Regions from separate parts of the Homo sapiens genome. Here region 2 is linked to region 1. The links come from fine-mapping of genetic effects on gene expression. A gene starts in region 1. The other region holds a variant in brackets. All regions are shown on one strand. Distances are between the middles of the regions. Region 1 holds the start of CEP43 (centrosomal protein 43). Region 2 has its middle 30 kb from the start of CCR6.

Region 1 (8,000 bases):
TAGATAAGGGCAGTCCTGATCATACATCTGGCTGCATTTGCACAAAACAGTACAGTTAGCCCATCCCTTCCCGCCTTGGATCCTGATGTTCACTTCTCTTCCTAATAAATATCCTCTGTGGCACTATTTTCCCCCAGAATAGGGCATTTTCGTTTGCCTTAAAAACCTGTTCAGGCAGATATCTTTTCTCCTCAGTGATTTTCTCTATTTTTTTTTATTTTTATTTTTTATTTATTTTTTTTTGAGAGAGTCTCATTCTGTCTCCCAGGCTGGAGTGCAGTGGTGCAATCTCACTGTAACCTCTGCCTCCTGGGTTCAAGCGATTCTCATGCCTTAGCCTCCTCAGTAGCTGGGATTATAGATGTGCACCACCACACCTGGCTAAATTTTGTATTTTTAGAAGAGACAGGGTTTTGCCATGTTGGCCAGGCTGGTCTCGAACTCCTGGCTTCAAGCAATCCACCCACCTCAGCCTTCCAAAGTGCTGGGATTACAGGCATGAGCCACAAAGCCTGGCCTTTTGTCCTCAATAATTTCCTTAATGGTATCTGGGAACTCGTCGGCTGCATCTGGGTCAGCAGAAGCTGCTTCTCCTGTTATCTTGACATTTTTTGAAAGCCAACCCACTTTTTAAAATTATCATACCTTCCTTCATCTTCCTTTTGCTTTGTCAGATAATGACTTCACTTTTTCTTGAATATTAGATTATATAGGTATGCCTTTCTCATAGCAATCCTGCACCCACAAAAAGCTGCATTTGCAATATGAGATAAAAAGGTATTTCCCAAAAAGTGCAAGGTTTTCATGCTTGTTGGTGTAGCTGCAGCGATGGCTTCATAAACTTCCTTTTGTTTTTATACCACAGTCCTTATACTGGATTCATTTATCTTAAAATGGCAGGCGACCTTAGCTGCAGACCTCAATCTACAATACACAGCAAGCAATTCCGCTTTTTCTGTAATGTCATTAACTTTTCTCTGATTCTTGGGAGCATTTCCAGCACCACTAGCGGCACTTCGTAATGGTCCCATGGTGTTACGCAAGGTTTACAGTACTGCAGTGAACACAACGAGAAATATGTGAGAACCTCAAGAGCTTACCTTTTACTGTGATATGCAATGTACTGGAGAGATCAACTGCTCACTCAGAGATGATTATGTTACTTGGAATTTTTAGCCAATACCAGCAACACTGACGCTCACTGCAATAGCAACAGGAGGTGGCTACAAAATCATTACAGTAGTACTCTATGTACTACAGTGAATTTGATGCAGTTATTATTTAATATTGCATCTTTACAACTGTTTACACCTCTCTTGAACCTAATGGGTGCCATGTAACTGTCTGTTTGTACGTGTAAGTTTTGATAAATTTTAACTTTTTATAACAGGCTTGTATATATTTTATGATAGTAAATAATAAAATGGCCTAGTATCTACATATATTTTATGCATTCATGACATATCTAGCTTTTTCTTTTCTTTTTTTTTCCATATTTCTTGGCTAAGCGACTCATCTGTGAGGTTTTTCACAAAATTGTTGCCATCGCCAAAAATATTCCATTTACTGAAAAAAATCCACATATAAGTGTACTCACGCAGTTCAAACTAATGTTGTTCAAGAGTCAACTGTATAAAAGGTATTAATATGTCTGGAAAGAGATATGTTTCCAATTTAACAGACACTACCAATGAGAAGAGTTGGGCTAGGCAGGAAACTTCAAATTTTCCTTTTTTACTTTATATATTCTATTTGTATCTCAACTTATAACCTGTGGACCACGTTTATTAGAAGAAAATGCAGATTCCTGAAACTTCCTGCAGACCCCATGAGTGACAATCTCAGGGAGATGGAGTTCCAGAATCTGCTTTTTTTCATAGATGTTTCTTTGCCATTCCTGTGTATATCTGAGTTTCAGTAGCACTGCTAATCAATTGTTTGGGGTTCTCTCTCCTTCACCAGCATGTTCTTGCAAAACTAACCAAACACATATAAAGCGCAAACAGTACAATAGTGCACTGCACCTTCATGACCCTTACCTGTTCCAGCCTCTTCCTACCTCTTCCACATGTGATATGTGTGTACATACCCACAGACAGAAACACAGAGACATGTTTGGAAGCCAGTGTGGATGCCCTGTGATCTGTGTGTACACATGACAAGTGCATACACACGCACATAAAGGAACCCAGAGACGTGTTTGGAAGCCAGTGTGGACACCCTGTGATCTGTGCGTACACATTTGACACCTGCGTACACACTCACAGACAGAAACACAGAGATGTGTTTGGAAGCCAGTGTGGACATCCTGTGGTCTGCGCGTACACATGTGACAGGTACGTGCACGCCCACATACAGGAACACACAGAGGCCTTTGGAAGCCAGCATGGGCAGACAGGCCCTATCCCAAAGCGGCCGGCAGGCGTCTCCTAAGAATGGTTCTCGGACACACCTCTGAAAGGAAAATACAACTCGGCACCGCAGTTGACTCGGCCAAAGGAAAAAAACTTAAGCTGAAAGCTGAGGCCTGCCCGAAGGAGCCTTTCCTGTGGCGCCTGAGCCGAGGGCTTCAGGGAGAGGGCCGCGCATCGCAGCGCAGCCGCCCGTCTTCCCGTGGCTTCCCTACGGCCGCGGCTCCCGCTGCTCCTTTCCGCCGGCCACGCGGGTCGCACGACCTTCCCCTCCCGCCCACCCTGAGGCGCTGAAGCCCTCGACGCCGGCCTCGGGAAAGGCGCGGCCACCGCCCGTTTCGGATTCCCGTTTCCTTCCTCCGGGCGCGTCCTTCACCGTGGCCAAATCAGCCTCTCAACTGCTGGAGCCCGGCCTCGGACACTTCTCGGCTTACGCCGCCATACAGTGGCGCACCCCGAAACCCCGGAACCGACAGCTCGGCTGGCCTTGCGCACCCACACTCTCCAAGGCAGGGCTCGGTCCGGGGGCTGGTTTTGCCAAGGCGAGGGGCGAGGGGCAGCCCAGGCGGCCGGATGGATACCAAGAGGGCGCGTCAGCTCCGGCGGGACGGGGCTTCCAGGGCCCGGGAGGGGTCCAGGACTCCCCGCCGGCGCCTGGCTGTCGGCGGAGGGCCGCGGGGCAGGAGGGAGTGGAGACTGCGGCCCCAGTTCGGGCAGCGCGGAGCCCACCCAACGCCCTCCTCGGCCCTCGGCTCTTCCTGGGGCCATCCCGCCCCTGCACCTCGGCCTGGCACCTTTCCGGTTAGCCTCGGAGGCCGTGGCCGAGCAGGGTGCGTTCGCCTGGCTGGGGGGCCTCAGAACGTTATTTCCGGGTGACAACCTGCAGGGCCTTCCGCCCCTCGCGACCTCTCGGGAGTCCCTTCCCCGGCGCCCCCCCGGGGCTGCAGGGGCTGCAGGTTCGGTCTCGGGGCCTCCTTACCGCAGTCCGCCCGGCTTTAGGCTAGTGGGCTTTAACTACGTCGATAATATGACTCCGGCGATCTTGTGCGGCGATGGGATGCGGCCGTGGGCGGTGGAGTCCAGGCGGAGTCCGCTCTCCACACGCGAGGGCGCCTCCTCCTCACCGCTCGCCGGCTTCAAAGCTCGCGCCTCAGGCGACGGCAGCCAACGGGTTGCCGGCTGGAGGCCCCGCCGACGCCCCGCCCCTTGCGTGCCCACCCGCGCCCCGCAGCCCCGCCCCCAGCGCCGACCCTAAGTTTCGGCGCTCAGTGGTCCGGCGCTCCCCAAGGCTCGGTGTCCAGCGTCAACCCCGAGGTCTCTATGCCCCGCCTCCCGACGCCAGGGGGCAGGGCCAGCGCGCTGCGCGTCGGGGCGGGGCTTTGGCTGCGTCGGCCGCGTAGCCCGCGCGCGGAGCGTACCCTGCTGCGGCCGTTGGCCGTTAGCGCGGCTTCGGCGGTTGTCTTGGAGAAGCAAGATGGCGGCGACGGCGGCCGCAGTGGTGGCCGAGGAGGACACGGAGCTGCGGGACCTGCTGGTGCAGACGCTGGAGAACAGCGGGGTCCTGAACCGCATCAAGGTGAGGCCGGAGGCTGGGGCCGGGCCTGGCGGATCCGCAGGGCTTGCGTGGACAGCGGGCGTCACAACGGTCGCGGCGAGGAGGCCGCCTCCCTGGCGAGGGACCGGGGCCGGCGGGCACTGGGGGCGCGCCCCGGCATGGCCTCCGTCCTGCCCGCCCCACAGAGGGGGTCGGCTCGTTCGTTCGTGTGGTCCCGGAGGGCACCGCGGACTGGGGGTGCCTGGCCCATCCCCTGCCTCATTCCGTGGGGGCGGGACCGCGGGGCTTGGGGGCCACACGGGCGGCCCGCAGCTGGGCCCTGGAGTGCGGCCCCAGCGTCTCTTCCTCAGGCTCGGGCATGATCCGCGGCGGGAAAGCAGCGCGTCCAGCCGAAGCCTGGGGGTCGGAGAGCTTGTGTGACTGAGAACGTTTCGGAAGGCGTTTCTGACCTTTGCACCTGCCCTCCCAGCTCGTTGGCTTGCTCGTGTTTGTTGCTGGATAAATGTGAGCTTGTTGTGAAAATTGTCTTGAAATTATAATTTCCTGTTTCTTAACTTTTTTTTAAGGCTGAACTCCGAGCAGCTGTGTTTTTAGCACTAGAGGAGCAAGAAAAAGTAGAGGTATGAAGTTTCCAGATTTTAACATGGCTGTATTCGTTAATACTTAATTTCTTATTCATTAAAAACCGTCTTAAAAATAGTTTATAGTAACATATAGCTAGGGATAATTTTGAACTGTTAAGGATTACATTACTATTGAGAGAGAGCCAAAATTATTCTTTTTTCGTGTAGCTTTTGAATTTGGGGGTAATCTTAAGGTACCACAGTAACTCTGATACTAATGCTTAATCTGAAACAAATGGTCATAGGAGTTTCTTGAAGAAATGGTGCCATTGTCAATGTGTTAAGTGCAGGTTCACTCAGATCCTTTAGTAAGCTAATATGTTATTAATCCCTATGAAACGGGGTATATAGTATGCAACTTTTCCCAAAATTATCTGACCACTCAATTATTTTGACAATGAAAAAGACAGCGATTATTTTAAAAGTGCAGCCACTACTCTATATTTAAGTGGGTAATTTAACTTTTTCGGAGTCCCACCAACCATCCTGAGTAAATATTCTGGAATTTGTCAACAAGAATAGAACCATCATCAAAGCCTTAAACTCTTGCTGTATGACAAATCAGTCTACTGTCCTCTCACTTCTTTAGACCTGTATACCTAATCTCTAATTTCATCAAAATCTTCAGTTCTTTGCCCTTTCCATGTCTGTGCAGGCATCAGTCTTCTCTTGGCAGCATTTTGCTCTGGACCCTATGGGTCTGGACCCCTAATTACCTTGCCTTAACGGTCATACGTGGTCTGGAAGAAATCTCAGTGGTCATTTAACCCAGCAAACTAACTCTTCCCACTTTGCACATATGTGCTCTTGGAGAAGAGTCAGTCAATCCTGTGGATTGCTGATGTTGCAAATTGGCAGGTACCAACCTGGTTAGGTCCTGAGCAGGCCCAGCAGCTCTCTTCTTCACCCTAGCTGTGCAGTAGCCTTCTATGTCACCCCTGCTTCCTTCTCTCTGAACACATGGTCTTGTTGCTTCCTCCACAGGGAAGGTAGAAGCCATTAGATCCTAACTTTATGTCCTCCTCTCCTGTCCCTCAATCTATTGCTCACCTGTGAAAATGCTTACCTGTGTCTATGTTTATCTGTACCTCTTTCCTTACTGCTTTAGAAGAAGAGGCTCTGTCCTGTCCAAGAATAATCACTCTGTCTTGTGTATACTTTCAAGTCTTTAATTATTTACTGTATCTTTGACCCCTTCCTTTTCTGATGGCTTTTCTTTTGAGCTTGAAAACATGTTTAAATAACTATTAGGAGTAAACTGTTTTCCTTTACTCACATTCTGCTTTTAATACCGCTGTGGTTTTTTTCCTTCACAACCTGGTTTTGACCACTCCTTGGTTTCTTTAGCATGATCTTTTTCCTGTACACCTGACTGAGACTTATCCACAGTTGTCATTCTGTACTGTCTCACAGACTGACCTTATTCATCCAGTAACTCCAGCCCTGTAACTTTCATGCATGTTTCTTTCCCGAGCTTCAGACCTGTATGTTAAACTGCCCACTGTATTATGCCCTTAATGGGACCATCATTTATCTGGCAAGAAATCTAAGCGTTTCTTAGGCCTTGCTCTTCTTTCCACCTGCTCAGCCATCACCTGGCTCTGTGTCTGTCAGGTGTGTATCTGAAGTGTCCCCAAGGGAGTGCTCTGCTGCCTCCTTTGTGCTTGTTTCTTCTTTTCCAGATTGCCTTATCCCCTTCCTACTTGCCAGTCTCCGTTTCCGTGGTGTCCCTCACCATCTCCCTGAAGTCCTTTTTCCACATTGCTCCTAGATTGGCTGTTTATAGTACACATCTGATCTGTCCCTCCATTCTCTTAAAATATTTCAGTTGACTCCCTATCTTAGAATTCCCTGAACCAGCCTACCAACTACCTTGAGGATCTCTCCTCTCCTTGTCTTTTATTTTAACAACTTTATTGAGGTAAAATTGACCTATAGTAAAGCTAAAGTATTTAATATGTACAATTTGATTTTTAATAGTTAATTTATGCAGCTGTGAAATGATCATCACAATCAAGGTACTGCGCATATCCTTCAAACTTTTGACCTTCAAAAGTTTTCCTTGTGCCCCTTATGTAACCCTCTCCCCCACCCCAAACCTTTTTAAGAATTATATAAATGGAATCGTATAGTAGGTACTCTTTTTTTTTGGTCTGTTTCTTCAACATAATGCATTTGAAATTCATTCATGTTGTGGTATGTATTAATAAATCATTTCATTAATACATTGTACAGATATGACAGTTTAGCCATTACCTGCTGACAGACATTTAGGCTGTTTCCAGTTTTTGAGTATTACAAATAAGGTTTCTGTGAACAGTCACATACAAGTCTTTGCTTGGATCTGTGATTTCTCTTGAGAAAATATGTAGAGGTGAAGTGACTAGGTCACATGCTAGGAATATTTGTGACTTTTAAGAAACACTACCAAATTGCTGTCCAAACTCGTTATGCCATTTTGCATTCCCATCAGCAGTGTATGAGGCTGCCACTGTAGCAGCAATTAATGTGGTCTTAAGGAAGCTTACCATGTGCTACCTACTGTAGCCTCTTCTCAGCAACAATCACAGGCTTGATGGTCTAGAAGTATTTTTTCCATACTTATTCAAATAAATGTATAATTACAAAAATAAGTTGGCCTATGGGCCGCATAAGATCATCTCACATTTCATGGATAAACTGGGAATTACAAGTGTATAATTAAATTCCTGTTCATAGTAAGTATGCTATAAATGGTAGATACCTGAGATGACAAAACTTTTATCAAACTTCATGTATTTGAAATAATAAACAGTTGTTGACATTTAATTGTATTTCACACAGGTATTTGAAAATATCTAGCTTCAAAAGCAGTTTATAAAACATTTAAAAATTAAAAATACAAATCTTCATATATGGTTTTGTTATATTAACTTTGAGAAATTACTAAATAGCACAAAGTAAGTCCTGTAGTAATTAACAGTTGTAGAATGGATTTTGTAAAACCATAATTTTATCAATGAAAACGTTAAACTTTATATTTTGTAGTTGTTTTTAGGGTAAACACATGACACTTAAATTTTTTTTTTTTTAACAGAACAAAACTCCTTTAGTTAATGAGAGCCTGAAAAAGTTTTTAAATACCAAAGACGGTAAGATGTTCAGTTTGTTCTTGTTTATCTATCTCTGAATTTTTGAATCTTGATACCATTTGGGAGAAATCAGGAATTTCAGGGCTTTTTTTTTGTCTTCAATTGTTATAGGTCCTCATTTTAAAATAATATTTTATTGTACAACAATCGTGTTGCTATTACATATTTTTGGATTTGGGATGTTGTTGCTTAAAGCCAGTTTTACTACAAAAAGCCAATATTAACCATTAAAAAGCGAAACACTGAAATCTATGAGATGATTGTCTTACAGTTAGTTACA
Region 2 (12,420 bases), 93 kb after region 1:
AGACTGTCGGAAAAGTGCAGTATTAGGGTGGGAGTGACCCGATTTTCCAGGTGCCGTCTGTCACCCCTTTCCTTGGCTAGGAGAGAGAATTCCCTGACCCCTTGTGCTTCCCGGGTGAGGCGATGCCTCACCCTGACATGAAACTATTTTTTAAGGGCATAAACAGTGTCTACTTTTACACATGATTTCCAGCAGTAAATCAAAAAATGACAGTTAAGAAAACAAAATAAAACAAAAACAAAAACAACTCATAGTCAACTTATAAAGCAATCAATCAATAGAACCAGAATTCAAGATGGCCCAGATGTGGGAACTCTAAGACAGGGGCTTTAAAATAACTCTGATGAGGCTGTGCATGGTGGCTCACACTTGTAATCTCAGCACTTTGGGAGGTCAAAGTGGGCAGATCACCTAAGGTCAGGAGCTCGAGACCAGTCTGGCCAACATGGTGAAACCCCATCTCTACTAAAAAGACAAAAATTAGCCAGGCGTGGTGCTGGGTGCCTATAGTCCCAGCTACTAGGGAGGTTGAGGCAGGAGAATTGCTTGAACCCAGAAGGCAGAGGTTGCAGTGAGCCAAGATTGCACCATTGCACTCCAGCCTGAGCGACAAGAACAAAAACTCCATCTCAAAACAAAACAAAAACAAAAACAAAACAATACAAAAAAGCCCTGAAGAATTTGTTAAATGATCTAGAGGAAAAGGCATATGGCATACATGAACAGATGGGAAATTTCAGCAGAGAGATAGAGAGTATAAAAGACATGTGGGAATGCTACAAAAAATATATAAGACATAAAGAATTCCTTCAGAAAGCTTATCAGTGAACTAGTCTCAGCTGAAGAAAGATTAAGGAACTTGAAGATAGGTCAACAGGAATCATATAAAATGACACACAAATAACATAAAATGGGCTGGGCACAGTGGCTTATGCCTGTAATCCCAGCACTTCAGGAGGCCAAGACAGGTGGATCACAAGGTCAGGAGTTCAAGACCCGCCTGGACAACACAGTGAAACCCCATCTCTACTAAAAATACAAAAATTAGCCTGGTGTGGGGGCATATGCCTGCAGTCCCAGCTACTCGGGAGGCTGAGGCAGGAGAATTGCTTGAACCCAGGAAGCGGAGGTTGCAGTGAGCCAAGATTACACCACTACACTCTAGCCTTGGCGACAGAGTGACACTCTTGTCTCAGAAAAAAAAAAAAAAAAAAAACAACAAAAAAAAAAACATAAAATAGAGGGAAAAACTCTGTCTAACAAGGCCTCCAAGAGCTGTGAGATCATCTAATGTACATGCAGTTGGAGTCCCAGAACAAGCAAACAAACAGCAAGGAATAAAACAGAAGAAATATTTAAAGAGATAATTTGCAAATATAATGCAAGACAGCAAACCTCAGGTCCAAGAAGCTCAGGGAATCCCAACAGTATAAATACAAAAACAAATAAAAAATCTCCATACCAAAAAAAAAAAAAACCCCACCTAGACACATAAAATCAAACTTTTTAAAACCAAAGATAAGGAGAAAATGTAGAATGCATTTGGGAGTTGTGGGGGACATTACATACCCAAGAAGAAAGATAATTGTAATAGATTTCTTGTCAGACATGTAAGCTGGATGTTAATGAACTGACATCTTAAAGTACTGAAACAATTAATCCAGAATTCTATTATTCTATTACAGATCCATTAAAATATTGTTTTAAATTAAAGGCAAAAATAAAAGCTTTTTAGACCCTGAAAAACTAAGATAACTCACTGCTGAGAGACTTGTGCTACAATAAATGTTAAAGGTAGTTCTTTAGGCTATAGGAAAATTATACCAGATAAAAATTTGGGGTTACACAGAGAAGTGAGCACCAGAAATAGTAAAAGTGGATATTAAAAACATTTTCTCATGGCTGATTCTTTAAAAGACTGTCAACTATGGTGGCCAGGTGCAGTGGCTCATGCCTGTAATCCCAGCACTTTGGGAGCCTGAGATGGGCAGATGGCTTGGGTTTAGGAGTTTGAGACAAGTCTGGGCAACATGGTGAAACCCTGTCTCTACAAATAATACAAAAATTAGCTGGGCATGGTGGTGTATGCCTGTAGTCCCAGCTACTCAGGAGGCTGAGGCAAGGAGGTTGAGCCCAGGAGGGTGAGGTTGCAGTCAGGCATGACTGCACCACTGCACTCCAGCCTGAGCAACAGAGTGAGACCCTGTCTCAAAAAAAAAAAAAAAATTGTTAACTAAATTAAAAATAGTAAACAGGGTTTATGACAGATGTAGAAATAAGATACATGAAATCATTTGCACAAAGTGGAGGAAGGAGTTGGAACTATCTAATGTCATAAATGCAAACTACTAAGGAATGATAATATTCTGAAATTGTCAGTTTTTTTTAGGCAAAGTAATAATTTCAGATCAGTTGCTAGTATCAATGAACTATCAATGTTTGAAATGTTTTCAGTATAAGTAGTTCAAGGGTCAGTATGAAACTTAAATTTCGAGGGAAAAAAACTAACATCATTTAATTCTGTGGTTTTCAGATTTAGCTAATATCAGAATCACCTGGAAGAGTTTGTTAAGCAAAGTTTCTGAGCTTTCTGGGCACTATCCCTGAAAAGTCTGATGTCACACATCTCCTGGAGGTAACGCCTCTCTGTTTAACAAGCAGCCTCTGCAGCCAACAGGTTTTGCTTCTCTGGGGAGGAAGTTGACCTCAGCTGCAGTGACCTTCCTGGAGAATTAAACAGAGGGGTGCAGATCCTTACACATGGCCCTCTACCAGGATGACGACCTCCCTCTAGAACAGGAGATACTAGTTTTACTGGTTAATGGCAGAGCCGAGTCAGGGGAGGCCAGAACCAGGCAGAAGTAACTTGAGTTTTCAGCTCTGGAGAGACTGCAGCCTTGGTCAAAGCCAAGAAAATCCCCGTCCTTGCGTTATTGAAGTGGTCAGTGTGAAGAAACAAGAACTCCCCAGACACTGGATCTCTTTGATTGATCTAAAGACCTTTCACTCCAGGCACATGGGGCCCATGAAAACTGTGGGCCCAGCAGCATATCACACCAGCCTCTTGGTGTGGTGCTCTCTGTGGTTCAGAATAGGAGCCTCTCGGGTCACTGTAGGACCCCACCGGCCCCTTTCCTCCAGACATAGGCCACAGATCAGCAATGTATTTTAAGCGACCCCGTTGGCGTTGGGCCATGTGTGTGGCATCTCTGTGGCAGCAGGTGGCCACATGCTCCTGAGTCTCAGACTGGAGGTGAATAGGGCAGCAGAAGAAGTCACCAGTGTTGAGCCAAGTCACAAAGAATAGGGCCAGTGGCAAGGGTGATGAATGGGTCAAGGGGATTGTAGTCAAGGAGCTGTGGGCCAGGGCTGGGCTCCATGCAGGATTGTGCCTGGGGGACCATCGTGGGAAATGGCTTCCTTTGAGCTCCTCAAATGGAAGCAAGAGTCAGCCTGGTTTTCTTCCCTCCAGGGAGCAACACAGAAAGGATTTTCTTTCTTCCACACAAGAGGAAGTTTTTAGGCTCTGCCAAGTAACCAAAGTAATAGAAACTGTGATGTCTCCAGAACTAGCCTCCAACTTCCTCCAGGTGGCAGGAAGGGGAGCAGCCACCTCGCCTCTGTGGCTGCTTTGTTTTTCCCTTCTTTTCTTGTTCCTCCATAGCCTACTTCCTCCATTTTGGGGTTCCTGTATGTAAAGTACTCATTGACCCAGAGATTGTATCTCAAAACCTTGTACCCAAAGGAGCAATTTTCCTGTGAACGTTCCCAAGACAGCGTTCCCAAAAGGTGTTACCAGCCTCAAGTCAGCAATCATAGTGTGGAACGGCGGTTTAGTTGTTGAGTGGAATCTCTTAGCAATCTTCCGACAAGCTGGATCAATCAAGTGAAGCTAGATTTCTATTGTTGATTTTGTTGTTTGTATGTTCTCATGACTTAGGCATGACCTATGTGCCTCTCCTCCTCCAGCTCTCCAATTTTCGCCATCCACTGTGTGTCAGACTCAGGCCTTTGAGGTGCCTGCATCTCTATATACCACACATGAGGCAGGTAGGGCTCAGAAAGATTAACAACTTTACACACATCACCCCATTAGGAAGTAGTAGGGTCAAGAGTCGAGATTCAAATGCTGATATAATTCCCAAGTCTGTGCTCTTAACCAGCAATATCATCTTCAAGTTCAGCAAAGAGTGTTTTGTGTTTCTCTATCCAAATGATGCCCATCTACTCTGTACCATCTATGAGCGTACACCATCTATACTCTCATATCCTCACGTGCCCATTTTTCCTGTAATTCCACTTCTTAGGCTTGTTCCCTTTAATACTATAACCAAGCGAGGGAATTTCCACTTTAAAAGGGAATTTGAAAGAGTAGAGTCTCATGTGACTTCCATTCATTTCCCTGACCTGTAGTTGTCCAAGGGACAGAGGGCGTCTTTGCATGTTCAGTCAGTCTAAACAGCTTTATTTGGCAAGATGTTTACCAGTTTCCATGGTCTTTGGCAAGATGTAAACATGGGCAGAGGGTCCCGAGTAAGAAGAAGTTGGAAAGGAAGTTGCCTGGCCACCGATGAGGCTTCGCGTAACTGTTCCACATAAAGGTCGTCTACTGTTTTTTTTTTCTCTTTCAAGTTAAACCTCTTCCCCTTTTTAGATGACAAGTCACAAAGCTGATCTACCCCAGATTGTGGCAACCTCACCCTATCTATACATCAGCTAAAGGCTGATCGAAGATCAGGTCTAAAGATTGTTGCAAAAAATGAGATAAGCTTTTAAAAAACCCCAGATTCTTTAATTTTGTATGTCAGTCATCAAGTCTTCATTCACACGCTCACTCAGCAACTCTTTCTTGAGCGCCTGCTGTCTGCGCTAGACCCTGGGTAGGCAGGAATGCAGGCTAAGCGCCTTCTCTATGGGGCCTTACATCCAAGCGACAACGTGCCAGGAGGGGACCAGTGCCCAGGAGAAAAGGAAGCAGCATCAGAGCCAGGAAGGGAGTTGGGATCGGGAAGCTCTTTTAAGCTGGGTAGTCAGGGAAGCTTGAACTGAGACACCCAAGGGGCCGACAGTGTGGTTGTCTGGAGAGCAACCTGGGAGAGAAGCAGCAAGGACCAGGGCCCTAGAGCAGGGACCGGCTGGACAGATCCCAGACACAGTGTGATTGCCGGGGCAACTGGCATAAACAACAGAGCTGGGAAGGACACAGGGCAGCGGGAGGAGAGCAGGGCAAGGGCGAGGGCTCCACGGGGCCTCTAAGTCATGGGAGGACACAGGGCATTATCCTGGCGCATGTGGGGTGCCCTGGGGAGCTCAGAACAGAATCCAGACATGATTTGAATCATGCTAAAGCTTTGCCTTCTCTGGAGGGCAAAAGTTTGGGGCAGGAAGGAGTGGGAATGACTGGCTATGAATGTGGGATATACACTATTAATACATCCTGGAGATGGCCAGGAACATTTGCTGATTTTGCTGACGTATTTGATGTGGAGAAAGAATCCAAGCACGACTGCAAGGTTTGGGGCCTGAGCAGTTGGAAGGACTGACTGTTGCTTTGATGATAGCACATGTCGGAGGAACAGGTCTGGGGAGTGAAATTGAGTTTGGCTTCAGATCTGAGACTCTTCTGAATACTCTGAGTGGGGGTCGGCGTCTGGAGTTCCACAGGAGGCTCTAGGCTGAAGACAGCGTGTAGGAGTGGAGTCGGTTAATATGATTATTAACTGGATAGTGTCTTCCCAAAATTCATGTTCACGCAGAATATTATTTGGAATATTATTTTATATTATTTGGAAATAGAGCCTTTGCAGTTGCAATTAGTTATGGGACTCAAAGTGAAATTATCTTGCATTCAGGGCAGGCCTTATGAAAACAGGAGAGAACGCAGAGACGGAGGGTTTGTGAAGACGGAGGCATAGATTGGAGTGATGCATTCACAAGTCAAGGGGCACCAGGAACTGCAGACCCCACCGGAAATGGGAAGCGAGGCTGGGGACGGTTCCCTGCACAGCCTCCA[A/G]ATGGAGCCACCCCTGACAGCACCTCGATTTCGGACCTCTGGCCCCCGAAGAGTGAGGAAGTAGGTTTCCGTTGTTTTAAACCACATTGTTTGTGGTACTTTGCTGAGGAAACGGACTCAGGGCTCAGCCTGTAAAGGGTGTTTACAGCATGGGTCTGAATGATGCCCTCCAGAACCTGTGCCAGTGTGTGTTGATGTTGGGGGGAGGTGGCCAGGCAGAGGAGCTTCGTGAATCTTCTTACTAACCAGTGAAAAGCAACAAGGAAGAAACAGACGGTGCGTTCCAAAGTAATTCTGGCCAGTGCTGCCTCTGCAGCTCTCTGGGTAAAAGCTCCGTAAAGACTGAAAATCAGGGAACCTCACTCCTACCCTGGTGCCCAGTACTGAAGCTCGGTGCCCAGTACTGAAGCTCGGTGCCCAGTACTGAAGCTCGGTGCCCAGTACTGAAAATCATCCTTACAATATCAGCATTGGCTTGGAGGGGTGTTACATATTTTTAAATATCAGCTTTATTGGGATAACTTACATACAGCAAAATGCATCCATTCTCAGGGTCCACTTCAGTGAGTTTTGACAACGACTGTGTTCCAGTGTAACTGCAACCCCAATCAAGATCTAGAACTTTCTACTCCCACCAGCTTCCCTGAGCTCCCTTCCTGTCAATCCCTCCCCGTCTCTCCCTGCTCCAGGCAACTGCTCACCTGTTTTCTGTGACTAAATAGAAGAGGCTTCCCCTAGGGTTTTGCATACTTGGAACCCTACGGAAGGCACTGTCTGTGCCTGCGTCTTCGCCCCGGCGAGCTGTTTCCAGAATCCTCTGGGCGGTGGCCTCGCCTCCTGGGCTGCGCTGCGATCAGCTGGGGCAGGCTGTGCTTCTCTTACCAACCCTGCTTCGGTGACACCGGGTTGTTTGCCTGACATTGGCCGTGGTGTGAGTGTTGACCTCACAGAAACGGGCCCGGGCTACCAGCCGGGGCTGCGTTCTCCCAGAGCACTGGAGGATACACATCTGCCGGTCACACGCTGGCCATGTCTTTTCACATTCAGAATAATTTCCTGATCACTCTTCTGCCCATATGAGCAAAAGTCCAGTCTCCATGATTGCCCTGCCCCGGCCTGCTCATAGCTCACCCTCCCGTGTTCCCAGGAATCCCAGGAGCCCGCCTCGAGGGCCGTATCCTGCTTCCAGAGGCATCGTGGACAGAGAAAGGAAGCCCGAGGCCCATCCCTGGCTTGACTGCGTGGGACGCGTTCTCCGCTGCCCTTGCTTCCCTCACGTGGAGCGGAGAGCAGGCGCTGAGAAGGGGCCCTGCGTGGTGACCCACTAGGGTTAGTTCAGAGCCTTGTGCACACAGACCCGAGGGGGTTTTCAAAGGAAGCTGACACCCCCGCGAGCTGAGGGCGGCTGTTCTCACGCATGCTCAGTGGCGCTCCCTGAGTGCTGAGAGCCACGGTCGGTGAGAGAGGAGCTTCCTGATGAGCCTCAGACGGTGCTGAAACCAGCCGACTCTGCCCAGGATCCTGAGTCCTGGTTTCCTGTTGACCCTTCCTTCCCTCACGACTTATTTCCCCTGGGAACTATCGATGTTCTTTTGGCCAGTGGGCTTCCGTTGAGGCCATCCTAATCATCAGAGAGGTTTTAGTCGAGTTAAACCTCAAAAGAGAAGGTGTTTCTTAATTTTCCCAGGGGTGCCCTTGGCCCTGATACAGATTTAGCTACCTTCCCCCGAAAGCCTCAAAGTTCTGCAAACTCACAGCCAAGCAAAACGCAGCTGCAGTCGAGCCAGCCTCGAAAGGTCTTACAACTTTCTGCAGTGGCCAGCTTGTTCTCTGTTTCCATGCCTTCCAGAATGAAGAAGATCAGTTCTAAGGTTTCTTACTATTTCTACCAAGAGACGACCATCGGCATTCCACAGACGGCTCCTCTAGCTGTGCACAATGCCTGTTCTTATCGTTATCACCCGCTTCGCGCCAGCGGTTCTCAATACAAATTCCTTGAGGTTTCACAGTCACAGATAGGTTGTATTTGTAGGGAAACAGAAGTGCTTCAGTGGAATACTATTGCTCTTTGTACAGAAACCTGACACCTAGTACTTCTGAATTCTAATCCTAGTTCTGTTAACAATTGGCTTTGTAGCAGCCTAGATAAAGTCAAATTATTTCTCTGTGTAAAAGAAAAACCTAACCAGTAGCAGGGGCACAGTAGTCTATGTGCCTTCCCTCTGGGCTTGTGGTTAGTCAGCAATGGGGGCTTTGTGAACTGCGTAGACCAGCACCCCACAGTCTGTTTCAGTTCCAGTTTATCCCATTGTCTCACGTGATCTTGAGTCATTTAATCATTCTGTGCTTTTTCAGCCTTCAGTGTAACAAAATAATTTACTAAGCACCTAGCAACTTGGGGTTTGCTTGAGGTTGTTATATCTGATTAGATATATCTCTATTAGATATTAGATGTGTCTGTACATGTAAAGTATGATACATTATATCCCCACAAGCCAAACAGGCACACGTAAGGCCAGCTTATAGCATTGAGATTTGGAAGACCCCTTAGAAGGTAGATCAGTGACCAACAACTGGGCAAGAAATTCCCTTGACAATGCAGCTGCTTGAGTAGTTTCAGTTTCAGAGCTCTCCTGTGGCAAGTGAATTATTGGATAGTAGTGACTTATTCATGTGTTAGAAAGTCCTTCTTTGGATGAGCTGGTATCTACGGAAACTTCCCTTATTCTACTTTTGTCTCTGCACCTAGCATAGTTCCTGGTACAGTATATAATGAGCCCTCAGAAAATATTAGGGGAACTGAGAACAAGACTGTTTTCTTCCACACAGTAGCTCTTTAAAATTTGAAGGTAGCTCTCATGTTGCCCCCTAATTTTCTCATTTTGGGACTAAACACACTCACTTGCTATAATTCTTTATAGAGGGGTGTGGCCCCCGATGTGTGGCTGTGGAAAGGCATGGTCCCCAATGTGTGACCGTTCAGGTTGCGTTTCTGAACGCAACTCACATCACTTCTAAGATAGGGTGTCCAGGTCTGGAAGAAATGATCCATTTCTCTACTGATGAGCATAGCAATCTGTGGGCCTGTTGCTGTCCACGTCTGGAATACCAGCTAAGGTGGATTGATGGTGCCGATGGCCCCCATGCATAGGTTCCTGGCACTCCCATCCTCTGGGATGTGGTCCACAGCTCCTCCCATTGCAGGTGGAGGGTCTGCTTCCCCACCCAAGTCTGCCTTGGCCTGAGACTTGCTTTGACCAGTGGAATGTGAGCAAAGTGAGGCTGTGCCAGTTCCAGTCTGTGCCACCAGGTCCCTGCTGGAAACCAGCTTCCATCATGACAGCAGGCTGGGGCTGGCCTGCATGAGGGTGACAGAGCACAAGAGGTACAAGAGTTGTTCCTGTCAAGGCCATTCTGGACCAGCCTGCACTGGCTGACCGATTGACCAGACAGGGAGTGTGCTGGGCCAGGTCATAGTGGCCCTAGGACCACCCTGGAGACTTGGGGGCAATGTTGAATGGTTATCACTGTGTGTCACTGAGGTTTTAGGGTTGTTTCTCGGGCAGTGTTGTTTTGGCAATAGATAATTCATACACCCTACTACTAGCACTGCCCAAGACTGGATTATCTGTGACAGGGACTTATATCAGACTTGTGACCTATGACCTTCGTCTGATCACTTTTATGTATACCAATTTCCCTACCTGTGCCATCCAACATGGTAGCCACCAGTCATGTGTGACTACAGAGTGCTTGAAGCATGTTAGTCTGAAGTGAGATGTGCTATAAATATAAACTACACACCTGATTTTGAAGACTTTCTACAAAAATCTAAACGATCTCACTGACAATTTTTATTGATTACATGTTGAATGTATTATATTTTAGATATATCAAGTTAAAATAAAAATATTTGGAAAATTAATAATTTCAGTTTGCTTTGTTTTGTTTGTTTGTTTGTTTGTTTTGAGATGGAGTCTTGCTCTGTTGCCCAGGATGGAGTGCGGAGGCTGCAACCTCCATCTCCCGAGTTCAAGAGATTCTCCTGCTTCAGCCTCCCAAATAGCTGGGATTACAGGCATGCGCCACCACACCCGGCTAATTTTGTATTTTTAGTAGAGATGGGGTTTCTCCATGTTGGCCAGGCTGGTCTCAAACTCCTGACCTCAGGTGATCCACCTGCCTTGGCCTCCCAAACTGCTGGGATTACATGTGTGAACCACTGCGCCCGGCCTCGGTTTGCTTTTTTGAATGTGGCTGCTAAAAAATTAAAATGACATACGTGGCTCACGTTACATCCCTGCTGGACAGCAGCGTCCCAGACAGAGCCCTGGAAACCTACATGTTTCTAATTTCCTTATCTTCATATTTTATTGTTTTCAGCTCAGAATTCCAACCACATGAGATAATATGGAACCTTGAGCACTATCTGTAGCATCTGTTGTCCATCACAGATCTTAGAATTCAGCAGGTTTGATAATCATCTTTCCCTTTTGCATGCAACTCATTGATTTAAAATAATTCTGACCAGCACAAGGCCAATGGCACGATCATGTAGCATTTCATTAATCAATTCTTTTCACACCAAAAATATCACTTCCCATTCCTGGTGGTACAAAGTGACTCAATCAGCAAGGAATCTACCTAAGCAGCAGGGTCATTCGGCCTACATTTGCCATTTTATCTCAGGGGATTTTATTTATTTATTTTCTGCTTTTTTTGAGACAGAGTTTCACTCTTGTCACTCGGGCTGGAGTGCAATGGTGCGATCTTGGCTCACTGCAACCTCCGCCTCCTGGGTTCAAACGATTCTCCTGCCTCAGTCTCCCGAGAAGCTGGGATTACAGGTGGCTGCCACTGCACCTGGCTAATTTTTGTATTTTTAGTAGAGAGGGGGTTTTGCCATGGTGGCCAGGCTGGTCTTGAACTCCTGACCTCAGGTGATCTGCCCACCTCGACCTCCCAAAGTACTGGGATTACAGGCATGAGCCATCGCGCCCGGCCTCTCAGGAGATTTTAAAGGAATCTGCGAGATGCTTTGCTGAAGTCCAGATCTGCGGGAGGTGGAGCTGCCCGAGCCCAGCGCTCAAGGCCCAGCCAGAACCGAACCAAGGCTGGCTGGGGCCGATGCACGCGAAGTGCTTGTCCCGTTTACTTCTAAATGCCCACAGGGTGTTCATTAGACAGCGTGGCCTGAAGTGTTTCCTGATGTCGAGTCATGGCCGCCTGGGTTTCTTCACAGCTTTCCTTTTGGAGCTCAGGGCGGCTGTCGTCTTGGGCTCCAAGGGTGCCTTTCCGCCTTCTCGGGTCCTTCCGGGTGCTGGAGCCGGCGCTCCGACACAGGGAGATGTCTTCATCAAGGGGATTCCACAGAGCCACTCCCAGCCTAATACCAGATATAAAAAGCTACGTTCATGGATGCAAGCTCAGTTTTCTACTTAAAAAGTGAAGAGATTCCGCTTGCAAGTTTGATTCAGTTCAATACCTTCCCTGATACCTCCTGTTTTACTTTTCTCATATATAATTCTTCCGCCTATACACAGGAAATGCAACAATTTTTTTCCACCAAGCCTCTTCTAGGTGCCCAGACCACCCCCGCTAACCCCAGTGTGCCCTGCACAAACGTGGGGTCCTGTGGATGCCCGGAGGTCATAATCGGGGAGCCCTGCTCTCTCTCCCGCACCTGGTTCCCTGGCCTCAGGCTGAGTCACACAGTCCCTCAGGCCTGGAGTGCTCTCTGACTCTCACCTGTGTGGCAAACGCCTCTGCATCCTTCAGCGCTCCACCCTGGACCTTACTCCTGCTGCGCTGCTCCTCAAGGCCCGGGAAAGCTTCCCAGGACCGATCTGGGTGTGGATGTGTGGGGCACGTTATTCTAACAATTTGAAGTAAGTTTCTTATGATGGAAGTGCCCCTGTCCCCAGGTCAAAGTACCTGCTTTCTAAAGCCCAAGTCTAACATCCTTATTCCAGTCTCCAGGCACGAACCTCGCCGAGACACCTCCACACTGCTCCCCATACCTCCCTGCAGTTTTCCTCCCTGGGTTCCTCCATGGACACGCTTCACTCTGCAGGGAACCTCCTAGCTCCCCTCCCTGCTGCCCCATGTCAGGCACCCTTGGGGATAAAAAGCATCTGCTGTGGGTGCATGAAGAGCATCTGCTGTGGGTGCATCTCCTGGCACGTCTGTCTTCCGTAGCTCCTCTTAGAACTCCAGCCATGGGTGTCGATTCTGTTCAACCCACAGTCCTCACATCCTGGGAACCCCCTTGTGGTTGCATTATCTTTAATCTTTTGTGATTATGTCAGTCAACACTGAGTTGCCTTTTACACAATGGGAGCAAGAGGAAGAAGGAGGAAGAGGAGGAGGCCAAGCTGCAGGGAAGAAGGATATGGAGAGGAGGGGGC

What was found.
Region 2: its variant is fine-mapped to the expression of CEP43 in whole blood (TOPMed, PIP above 0.99). The same link has a PIP of 0.9 or more in neutrophils.

What each region holds. Positions count from the first base shown.
Region 1 is chr6:166,995,528-167,003,527 of GRCh38, forward strand. It overlaps CEP43 (centrosomal protein 43), which reads left to right and starts at 3,870. Exons shown (of 13, transcript NM_007045.4): 1 at 3,870-3,987; 2 at 4,533-4,586; 3 at 7,666-7,720. The coding sequence starts at 3,886. It overlaps MIR3939 (microRNA 3939), which reads right to left and starts at 2,385; the gene lies at 2,280-2,385. RefSeq lists an enhancer at 2,352-2,401 and silencers at 2,942-3,171, 3,462-3,981, 4,072-4,231, 4,242-4,331.
Region 2 is chr6:167,086,773-167,099,192 of GRCh38, forward strand. No RefSeq gene overlaps it. Among named protein-coding and RNA genes, the nearest start is that of CCR6, 30 kb to the right of the region's middle. RefSeq lists enhancers at 5,609-5,668, 6,554-6,623, 6,734-7,103, 8,434-8,493, 8,694-8,773. The variant A/G (reference allele first, on the strand shown) is at 6,014.